Linked DNA regions of Homo sapiens. The protein of the gene in region 2 interacts with the protein of the main gene of each other region in a biochemical or structural test. Each region holds a gene or a part of one and is shown on either strand. Other genes may lie near its edges.

Region 1 (8,039 bases), on a different chromosome or scaffold from region 2:
CAAGCCACCCACCCTGTGACCCACTGGTGCACCCACCTGGCCTCAGGCACAGCACACCTTTCCTCGCTCCACACAAATTTCTTCAGCACGTCAGAGCAGCAGTATTGGTCATCACAGGTACCACAGCAGAAATCTGGACAGGACTCGGGGAAGAGGCTGAGTCCACGGGAAGCCATACACACCTCACCACGTGCTGGAGAGGAGAAACACATCTGTTCACCTGTGCCCACGGGCCAGGCCCCAGCAGACACAGCGCCCTCCCTGGCACAGCCACCAGACCACACACACACACACATGCTGCACCGTCTCTGAGCCACCCTAGCCACAGGCCACCTTCTGACCCCTGGCCACTGCTCCCCCTCAGCCTTGCCCTATCCCACGGGCCACAACAGAGCTGCCCTAACTGGGCTCCCTCTCTCCCTCACCAGTGCACTGGCCTCCTGATAGGAGGGTGAACTTTCTCAATGTGAGTCTGATGGGGCCACACCCTGCTCTCAAACCTCCCCTAATTCCCACTGCTTCAGGATCAAGGCCCGAGTTTCCAAGCAGGGTCTAAACTGCAGAGTCCTGAAGATCACTCCAGCTCTCCAACCTGTCCACACTCCGCTCACATTCTTGCCTGGTTCCTATCTCCTGCCTTTCAACTCTACTCATCCTTCAAGGCCCTACTCCAGGTGGCCTCCTCCAGAAGCTGCCCAGGCGAGAAGTCACACAGCTCAACACCTGCAGGGGACCAGACACTGGACTGTCCCTTTCTTTCTTTTTTTTTTTTTTTTTTGAGACAGAGTCTCACTCTGTTGCCCAGGCTGGAGTGCAGTGGTGCGATCTCAGCTCACTGCAATCTCTGCCTCCCAGATCCAAGCAATTTTCCTGCCTCAGCTTCCCGAGTAGCTGGGATTACAGGTGCCTGCCACCAGGCCCAGCTAATTTTTTGTATTTTTTAGTACAGACAGAGTTTCGCCATGTTGGCCAGGCTGGTCTTGAACTCCTGACCTCAGGTGATCCACCCATCTTGGCCTCCAAAGTGCTGAAATTACAGGCATGAGCCACCGCACCCCAGCCAGACTGTCTAGTTCTTAATCCTCGTTCACTCTCTCCCTCACTCAACCACAGCAACCTCAGCCCCTGCTGGGCACCACAACTGCAGGGGCCTGGCTCTCACAGACCACCCCATAACCATGATGGCAGGCTAGATCCTGGTCAGAAATTGTCACACCCACCATACCAGCGTTCATAAAGCACTTAGCCCCGCGCTGGGCCTGCAGCAGGTGTCCAGGAAATGTCTGTGCCTTCCAGGAGTTTGAGACCAGCCTGGGCAACAGGGCTCCAAGGCAGTGGCACCATCTGTAGCCCTGGAGCCATCACAAGACTCTCAGCACAGAGTTGGGATCTACTGACATCCTTACAAGTCTCAATAAACGAGGTCATGCTGAGGGGATCTGGCTGACAACAAATGTGGAAAATAACCCAGGTTTTTGGATGACCACAAGGTTTACAAACCTCCAGGAAGATGCTACAGTCAAATGTTCCCATGTATCCTCAGGCTACATTAGCAGAGACCTGTGCCCACTAACAGGAAGGAACAGTACCGGATTCTGCCAGGGCAGACTCCAAAGAGAATACCTAGTCCAGCAAGGCCCACAAGTCCGCAGTAGGCAGGGGACAGGTCTGATGATAGCCCTGAGGCATAACTACATCGGCCTGGAAACAGTCTGCCATAGCACGTGGCCTCTGGAGACCCAGCCAGGCCAGGCACCTGGCCATGTGCAGCATCTGGTGCCCGGGCCTGATCAGGACACCACACACCCCGAGGCTGTCAGTAGAGTGAAGCCCAGAGACAGAGACACCAAGTGACCTCCTTGGGAAGAGGGAACTTTAGTGGGGAGTTGGGGGGAACTGCACTTCTTGGCAGCTCCAGGCAGAACCCTGCTCTGGGCAAAGCCATGGAGCAGAGGATTGGACCATTGACAAGCCCAGTTTGGCCAGCTGCCCACCTGAAAGCTGGTATCATCAGCATGGCCCGTGCCTGGTGGCTCAGGTGAACCCATATGCAGCAAGGTCTTCACAGCCCAATCTGAGCCTCTGAGCTAGGGCTGAAGACACACCGGTGAGGCTGTTTAGGCTGAGTCCATGGCACAAATGCTCTCTGACCCCCAGACCTCACTGAATCAGTGACCGACCCTCCTACAGGCTCACTCCAGGAGTGGGCGGATTCTGGGCACAAGTCTCCCCTTTCTCATTTCTCTAGCCCAGGTCCTCTGGATTCATCCCAGCCCCCAGGAAATACAGCCTTCCCCTCCACGAAGCCACCCACCCCAAAAGGGTCTTTGGCTTCCCATGGGTGGGCAGGGGATTGTTCCAATTCCTAACCCTTTAAAGGACCCGCCCCCAGCCAGCCTTCCAGACTCTGTGAATCACCTATCTGCAACCAACACACACAGTGGTGTCTCCACCCCAGAGGCCAGCCTCAGCGCCGGGCTCTACAGGAACACAAGGGCCAACGGAGGCAGCGGTGGGGGCTCCCAGACATTAAACAGAGGCAAAGAGGGAAGGCCTCTGATGGAGGGGCCAGCTCGCCCTGCAGCCACCCGCCAGACTAAAGCCAGGCAGGGAACCCTACCCTAGCCTCTGGGGACTCCATCCCCTGGAACATGGGCGGGAGGGCAGACCCCTCCCCACCGTTCCAGGACAGACAAAGGTGGCAGCTGCCTGGTGTCTAGGCAGGGTTGTTCAGGCAAGGAGGGTGCTGGGGTGGAGGAGGGGTCCGCAGTCGTGGGGGTTCGCTGACGGCCTCGGGGCAATCAGGGGTCAGTGGGGGGCATAGTGGGGCTGGTGCTGCCCGGCTCGTTGGAGAGGCAGCGCGGGGAAGTGTCTGCCCGGTCCCAGGGCAGGACGGGCCGCCCCCACCCCCGGCTCACCACCCGGAGGCGGCGTTAGCAGCAGCAGCAACAGCAACGGCAACAGGATCCGCGGCGCGGGGACCGGCGCAGTCATGGCTGGGCGGGCGGACGGGCGGACGGACGCGAGCGCCGGGCGCAGTGCCGCCACAGCCTCAGTGATCCGCGCGGCCGCCCCTCTCCCTCGCCCCGCCCCGCCCCGGCCCGGCTGGTTCCCGGAACCTCTGTCCGGGGGAGCAGGAGGAGGAGGAGGGAGGAGGAGGGAGGAGGGAGGAGGGAGGAAGGTGGAAGGAGGAGGAAGGAAGGAAGCGGACGACTTCCCAGCCTCGGGGCCAGCTTCGCGCCCGGGGTCTGCGCGAAAACTTGGTACCGGTTCCCAGACTCGGACAGGCGCCGGGCGACGCACGGAGTTTCCTTCTGCTCACCGGATGCATGGGGGGCGGCGGCGGCCCCCAGCTCTCAGGCCTGGAGGGCGTCCCCGGGAATATGCACCCTGACACTGAGCGCCTACTGTGTGGGCTGGGGGACAGCCACAGCCATCCCTCCCAGCCGCAGTCCCGGCGGATCCTCACTTGCCCGAGGGCTACGTGAGGACTAGGTGAGGCGGTGCGAGGACAGTGCCCAGCGCAGACCTTGGCACTCAGTAGACACTCCACAAATGCCGGTTCCCTTCTACAGGCCCAGTCGCCAGCTCAGAGGACACTCGATCTCCTGCCCCCTGGGACTGACACCATCATCCCAAGGTGATCCCCAGCCCCAGCCCTGGCAGGCTCAGCGCTGGCGCAGTGGGCCAGGACTGAGCTAGAAACTGGCAGCTCCCAGGGCACACAGCCAGGCCAACTTCCCACACAGGGCTCCGCCCCCTCACTTCGGGGCAGGGGTCCAGGCAGAATCAGGGATGTTGAGTCATTCTTCCTTTTATGCCCAGAGTTCCTGACCCACCCCCACTCTGCACCTAGCACAATCAGAACATTTCACTCAAGACAGAAAACGTGAAATGTCACACTAGTGGGGCACCCAGGCTGGGTTGTGCACCCTGTGTGCCACCATATATTTCTCACCTAAAGGTGGGGGCATCGCTGTGGACAAAGAGAAACCCAAGGGGACAATCTGGGATGTTCCCAGTAGTTTCCCAGGCTAGGGTGTTAGAACAGGGAGAGGAAGGCCTGGGTCTCCAATAAGCCCCCATCACCTCCTGGCCAAGAAGGGCTTAAGACTCACCGTGCTCAATACACATGTGGGGGGCAGGGATATGACAGTTCCCAGGCAGGATGCCCTCTGGGAGGGTCTTAGTGAGGGACTGGAGTCACATCCTCCCTGACAGCCCAGCCTGGTTATCCCACCTCTGCCTCCTGAGCGCCACTCTCCAAAGCTGGGTGCAGCCTAGGTCCCCCTTCTGCAGAATGGCCAGTGTATGCTCCTCATGTCCAGCTCTAGAGCCATCCTGTGTTCCACACCCTGGGTGCCCAGCCCTCTGCCTCCCTAAAGGTTGCTCATTCCACTCTGCACCATCCACAAGCTTGGTTTCTTGTTCCTTGGTTTTCCAGTCCCTGCCCCCCAGCCAAGCTCCTAAGAGTTGTTCTAAGCCTGGGCAACATAAGGAGACCCCATATCTACAGAAAATTTTAAAATTAGCTGGGTATGGTAGCAAGCACCTGTGGTCTCAGCTACTTGGGAGGCTGAGGTGGGAGGATCATTTGAGCCCAGGAGATGAAGGTTGCAGTTATGATTGTGCCACTGCACTCCAGTCTGGGCAACAGAGCAAGACCCTGTCTCAAAAATAGAAAAACAAGGCCTGGTGCAGTGGCTCACACCTGTAATCCCAGCACTTTGGGAGGCAGAGGCAGGCAGATCACCTGAGGTTGGGAGTTTGAGACCAGCCTGACCAACATCTCCATGTTGGATAGACATGGACCAACATCTCCATGTTCAGTAGAGCCCCGTCTCTACTAAAAATACAAAATTAGCCAGGTGTGGTGGTGCATGCCTGTAATACCAGCCACTCAGGAGGCTGAGGCAGGAGAATCGCTTGAACTCGGGAGGCAGAGGTTGTGGTGAGCCAAGATCGCGCCATTGCACTCCAACCTGGGTGACAGAGCAAGACTCCATCTCGAAAAAAAAAAATGAAAAAAAAAAGAATTGTCCTTTCCCACCTCCTATGCTTGCCTTTGGCTTCTCTACTCTGCTGCCCCCAACCCCAGATCCTTTAGGGGCCTCTCACCTGGCCTCTTCCTCCCTACTTTTTTGGTCTTTGGCTCTCCCATACCCTCTTATCTGCCCACAGCTCATGGTTGAGCTTGGTGGGTGTTTTGGGCTCCACCCAGGGCTGTGCATGGGCAGGAGTGAGTGGAGGCTAGGATCACCCCAGTGGCTTGGAAATCGCAACCATGCATCTCACAGGCATGTGCCCATGTGTGCAGGCATTTTCTGTGGGTCTAAGGGAGGAGACCACCCCTCATATTGTCTTATGCCCCATTTCTGCCTCCAAAGAAAGAAAAAGTAAAAACTAAAAGGCAGAAATGAAATCCACAAGCAGACAGCCCGGCGCCACACCCTGGGTCTGGTAGTTAAAGATCGACCCCTGACCTAATCAGTTATGTTATCTATAGATTACAGACATTGTATAGAAAAGCACTGTGAAAATCCCTATCCTGTTTTGTTCTGACCTAATTACTGGTGCATGCAGCCCCCAGTCACGTACCCCCTGCTTGCTCAATCGATCACGACCCTCTCACGAGCACCCTCTTAAAAGGGACAGGAATTGCTCACTCGGGGGACTCTGCTCTTGAGACAGGAGTCTTGCCGATGCCCCCGGCCAAATAAACCCCTTCCTTCTTTAACTCGGTGTCTGAGGAGTTTTGTCTCTGCAGCTCAGGCTTGCAAAGCCTGGAAATACAAGTTGCCTGGGGAAAGTGACCCCTCCAAGGCAGAAACCAAACTTGGCCCAGATGCTGTACCAAGGCTAGGACTTGGCCCAGATGCTGTACCAAAGCTAGGTGGCTCCCCAAACCTTCCTACAGCTCTGTAAACAGCAATTTTTTTTTTTTTTTTTGAGACAAGGTCTCACTGTCACCCAGGCTGGAGTGCAGTCACGGCTCACTGCGGCCCCAATTTCCCCAGGAAACTGGGGTGATCCTCCCACCTCAACCTTTGGAGTAACTGGGACCACAGATGCACACCACCACGCCCAGCTAATTTTTGTATTTTTTGTAGAAGTAGGGTTTTTGCCATGTTTCCCAGGCTGGTCTCGAACTCCTGGGCTCAAGCAATCTGCCCGCCTCAGCCTCCCAAAGTGCAACAGCACTTTTATCAAACTCTCCTCAAATACCCAGTTTGTTAAGAATGACTGTGTTCTGCTGGGACCTTGGTTACAGTTTGTAGGTGAGAACTCTGCATCAGGCTGGTGGAGCAAAGCAACACCCACTGATGCTTGTAAAGCCCAGGGTGAGAGTAACCAGGTGAGAATGAGGCCATCAGCCCAGCCCCAGGACTGACTGCAGGACCAGATCGGTGAGTTCTACAGTGGAACGCTTGCTCAAGGATCCTTGCCATTCTTCTTCATTCAGCACCTGGTCCCCTTTCCTCCACATCAGAGGAGGAACACGCTAGATATTATCTTTTTCAGATTCCTTTGCCCCAGGGCAAGAGCTTTTGCCCAGCCCCAACCAATCAGATGTAGCCTCCCTGGAGTCAGTCAGGGGTACTGGCCACCAGCTTTGATGGAGGGCTGCAGCAGTCCTGGCAGAAACATGAGTCTGCACCTGTGGGGAGGGCTGTGTGAGTCACAAAGGCCCCTGCTTCCCCCTCGTGGCAGGAGCAGTGGCATGCTCACCAGGCCAAAGTAGCACTGTGGTTTGGGCTGGAGACGATACTGCTTCGACTTGGAACCTTTCTTTCCAGCCGCCTTGTTGGCTCTGAGGGCTCCACAGTTGCTTTTCATAAATTGGGTTTCTGATTAAGTTGGGCAGAGTCAGTTTCCTCCAACTGACAGAGAAGTTCTCACCAGGGCCGGGCACCGTGGTGACTCATGCCTGTAATACCAGCACTTTGGGAGGCAGAGGTAGGCAGATACCTCTTGAGCGCGGAGTTTGAGACTAGCCTGGGCAACATGACAAAACCCCGTCTCTACAAAAAATACAAAAATTAGCTGGGCATGGTGATGCGTGCCTGTATTCCCAGCTACAAGGGAGGATTGCTTGAGCCCAGGAGGCAGAGGTTACAGTGAGCTAAGATTGCACTACTGCACTCCAGACTGGGCAACAGAGCAAGACTCTGTCTCAAAAAAAAAAAACCTAAAAAAAAAAAGAAAACATCTGGACAAGGTGGCTCAAGCCTGTAATCCCAGCACTTTGGGAGGCCGAGGCGGGTGGATAACCTGAGGTCAGGAGTTCAAGACTAGCCTGGCCAACATGGCGAAACTCCATCTCTACTAAACATACAAAAAAAATTAGCCAGGCGTGGTGGCGTGCACCTATAATCCCAGCTGCTCAGGAGGCTGAGGTGGGAGAATCACTTGAACCAAGGAGGCGGAGGTTGCAGTGAGCCGAGATCGCACCACTGCACTCCAGCCTGGGTAACAGAGCGAGACTGCTTCAAAAAAAAAAAAAAAAAAAGAGAAAACTAGGCTGGGCGTTGTGACTCACGCCTGTAATCCCAGCACTTTGGGGGGCTGAAACGGACAGATCACTTGAGGTCAGGAGTTCCAGACCAGTCTAGCCAACATGGCGAAACCCCGTCTCTACTAAAAATACAAAAATTAGCTGGGTGTGGTGGTGCATGCCTGTAATCCCAGCTACTGGGGAGGCTGAGGCATGAGAATCACCTGAATCTGGGAGGTGGAGGTTGCAGTGAGCCAAGATCGTGCCACTGCACTCCAGCCTGGGTAACAGAGTAAGACTCTGTCAAAAAATAAAAAAATAAAAAAAGGGGAGACAGAGAGAAAGAGAGAAATAAAAAATAAATAATTTTTTTTAAAAAATTAGTCCCCATCAGGAATGGTAGCAGATGCCCAGGGAAATGGGGGTGTCCGACTTGTCATCTGCCTGGTTGGAGCTAAAAGCAGTGGAAGTCCAGGCCTGAGGAAGGAAAGGGCTCTGGCAACTTGTGGCAGGCAGAGGAGACCGAGCTGGTAAAGTCACTGCT
Region 2 (3,307 bases):
TACCTACATCTCAGTGAATTGTTGAGGATTAAGCATCTGCTATGTATGTATCTCCTTTCCTGCCCTGCACAAAGTAATTACCAGAATTACTATGGATAAGGCCCCAACAATTCACCTTCAATGTTTCATGCTTCTACTTTCCCTAACTTCAGCTTAGTTTTGGAAGGTGTGAACACTTCTTAAGGGCAAAGTTCCATTCTAGGGTCCAGGAACCAGGAACTAATGGTCAGAAGCTGGAAGCTCATGGCAGGCAGGACTCCATCCCTCCCAGACCTGTGAAATCTTATTGTCACTCACTCCGGCTTAGGACAATGAAGTGAAGCTAAAATCAGGGTCCATGAACCCATGTAGTCCATTTGAAAGGATTTGCATAAAAATGGTCAAATATGCAAATGTTTAGTGCTGCTTAGTAAGGTAAGCACCATGTTGTAGGTCACAGTGTGGCCAAGTCTATCTGTGCTAAACTCCATGGTAAGAGCCACCAGGCTTCCTGGAAAGGCTGCATTTCTCAGAAACACATGAACCAAATCATACCTTCTGTACTACATGGTAAGCTTTCACAATGCCAAAGAAAATGGAATGCAACAGAACTTTTAATCCCATAAAAGACTCAATATATTTGGCACCCTCATTTTATAGTACTCCTTTTTGGTACAGAATCATTTTGCCAAAATACTCCTGTGATACAGATGCACATGATAAACTGTAAAATGGAATTTCACCCATTGAAGAGCCCCAAAAGAACAATATGGTAGTGCAGCATGAACTAACATGCAATTTCTAATTTTCAATATCCCCAAATTGCAAAATACTAATAGCTAATATATATACTATATGCCAAGTATTAAGTACTTTGTAATATTATCATAATCTGTTATAACCGCACTATGAGGAAAGTAGAATAGTACAATTATCTCACTTTGCAGATGAAGAAGCTGAGGTATAGAGATCAATTTACACAAAATCATATAGGCTGTTAGGCTCTCAAGTCTAGCTCTTAAGAGTTGATAAATGTGGAGCCTTTGGCTAGTAAGCTTTGCTACTTCTGGAAATGAATTTAGCCTTAGAAGTATGTTGAAAACTACTGTTTATGATTTGCTGTTAGACCAACAGGTAAACAGTGAACTATAAGTCAGTGTCACGAAAATATCAGTGTCATGAAAAGGCTAGAGTACATGGAGGGGGAAGATAACTTCTGGCTTGGGAGGTGGCCAGAGGGTCAAAGAAAGCTTTGCAGCAGTGGCATTTGAGCCAGGCCTTGGAAGATAAAAAACATTTGTGTCCTATACTTAGTAGGAGCTTGGTCAAGACAACACAAATATTAACAAAACTAATGACCTAGATGACATTAAGAAATATACCCTAAACAAGATGCACAACACATGTGTGACAATATTCTTGCTTCATTTCAATATCCACTTTACCCTAGTGTTCTGATTTCCAGTTTGGTTGTCATATCCATGTTCGTAACAATACCAAAATAGATTATGGAGACCAAAATCTAATACTGTTTCTTTTTTATGATAAACACCTTTTATTATATCTCAGTGTGCAAAAATACAAATTATCTTAAAAAAAATACAGAGCACTCTCGCTATGGATCCAGGCAAAGACAGGACAAACAAAAATTCCCTAACAGATGACAGTGAACACTTCGGTGGATTGAATCTGGGAACTACAATAGCCCTGCTCTCATTATACTATGAAGCCAAATTAATCAACTTTGATAATGATACACACTTAAACTATGAAAACCAATTAAGGCACAGTATCATTCAAAATTTATAGACAGAAGAGCAATAATCCCGAGAAAATATAATTAAAATACTCTGCTGAACATGGAATGACACCACATTTGTAACTTAACACTGGCAAAATTTGGAATGATTATAGCATAAAAGACATGGTTTTTCTGAAAAGTGGACAGGGAGGTGTGGTATATAGGAAAGTGGCTCACATTCAAGACTCAAGTTTATTTTTTAAAAGATCTCTTCTGCATTAGATTCTAGGTTTCTTTTTTGGTTTCAAAACTGGGTCTACAATCCATAAAAATGACATTAATGGAGATCTTAAAAACAATCTGATTATACCAGCAGTTTGGTAACATATCGGTAGAGCTGTTCTGTAAATGCTTCAGGGGAAAATTTTTCCTTCACTCTGGCTCTTCCAGCCAGGCCCATGGTGGCTTTTAAGGAAGGTTCACGGATGAACTTTTCTATTGCTTCTGAGAAGTGCACCGGGTCAGGCTCACACAGAAACCCTGTGACACTGTGGTCAATGGACTCCAAGGGTCCACCCGAATTAACAGCAATGACTGGGCACTGCATGTACATGGCTTCCAGAGGGACAATGCCAAAGTGCTCATTGCTTGGTGTGTAAAGCACACACGTGCAGCTGTGGAGGAGGGAGATTTTCTGTTTGTCTGAGAAAGACCTCAAGAAGGTCACATACTGGCCAAGGTCGGACTGTTGGACCATTTTCTTCAATTCCTGATAATGTTCCACATTCTCCAGGACTCTCTCGTCATAACCACCTGCCACGATCAGATGAACCCTCTCCCAATCTTGGGATGTCAATCTTCCACGCAGCTGTACTAGGGCTTCCAGTGCCAAAGTCAGATTTTTCTTCCTTTCGTATCTGTTGATGGAGAGCAGCAGGAATTTTTTCCCCTTGGGGACTAGGTCATCCAGCTTTTCAGGAACAACTGAGTCAAAGCTGGTGACATTTAGAGATGGATAGAGGACATCAGGGTCTATGTGAGACAGGGACTTGAATGTTTCCTTAAAAACAGCAGCTGTGAACTGGCTGTTGACTAAGATGCAGTCTGCCATGCCTGTGGTGTATTCCTCTATCCAGTCAATTGGGGCCCTGTATAGTCGTTTAAGAAAAGAATCTCTCTTGGTGAGAAGCAGATCTGGGAAGTGACAGTAAAATAGGATCTTCTTCCGCCGTCTAGCCAGCCTGAACACTGGGATACAGGCAGACACCTAGCCAAAGCAAAAATCAACAGCGGATAAAGTGGTCAACTCAACTTCAACCAAACCAAAAACACAGACACCCACCCCGTCTGGCTAGTCTGTGGGCTCCTCATGGGCAATGTCTGATTCTGTTTTATTCCCCAAGACTCTCACCCAGTACCATATGCCTGGTGTACAGAAGGCTACAGACGTTTGCTAGATGTGTGCTAAACATTTAAAGCTTCAAGTCCAGTGATTTCCTCTTGTATAGTGCTGTCTAATAGAAATCTAGTAATATTAAAAATGTTTTTAAGGGTGAAATTAATTTTAACATATTATTTACCGAAAAC

Evidence for each region.
Region 1: the proteins of ALG2 (region 2) and SHISA5 form a complex in vitro, tested with the Homo sapiens proteins (one study listed by BioGRID).

The regions. Positions count from the first base shown.
Region 1 is NC_000003.12:48,501,101-48,509,139, forward strand, and holds the start of SHISA5 (protein shisa-5 isoform a precursor), read right to left. Parts: upstream 3,075-8,039; 5' UTR 2,995-3,074; coding exon 2,919-2,994; exon of another isoform or gene 2,621-2,918; intron 2,094-2,620; exon of another isoform or gene 1,995-2,093; intron 194-1,994; coding exon 37-193; intron 1-36. UniProt on the Homo sapiens protein: Can induce apoptosis in a caspase-dependent manner and plays a role in p53/TP53-dependent apoptosis.
Region 2 is NC_000009.12:99,215,850-99,219,156, forward strand, and holds the end of ALG2 (alpha-1,3/1,6-mannosyltransferase ALG2), read right to left. Parts: intron 2,988-3,307; coding exon 2,085-2,987; 3' UTR 576-2,084; downstream 1-575. UniProt on the Homo sapiens protein: Mannosyltransferase that operates in the biosynthetic pathway of dolichol-linked oligosaccharides, the glycan precursors employed in protein asparagine (N)-glycosylation.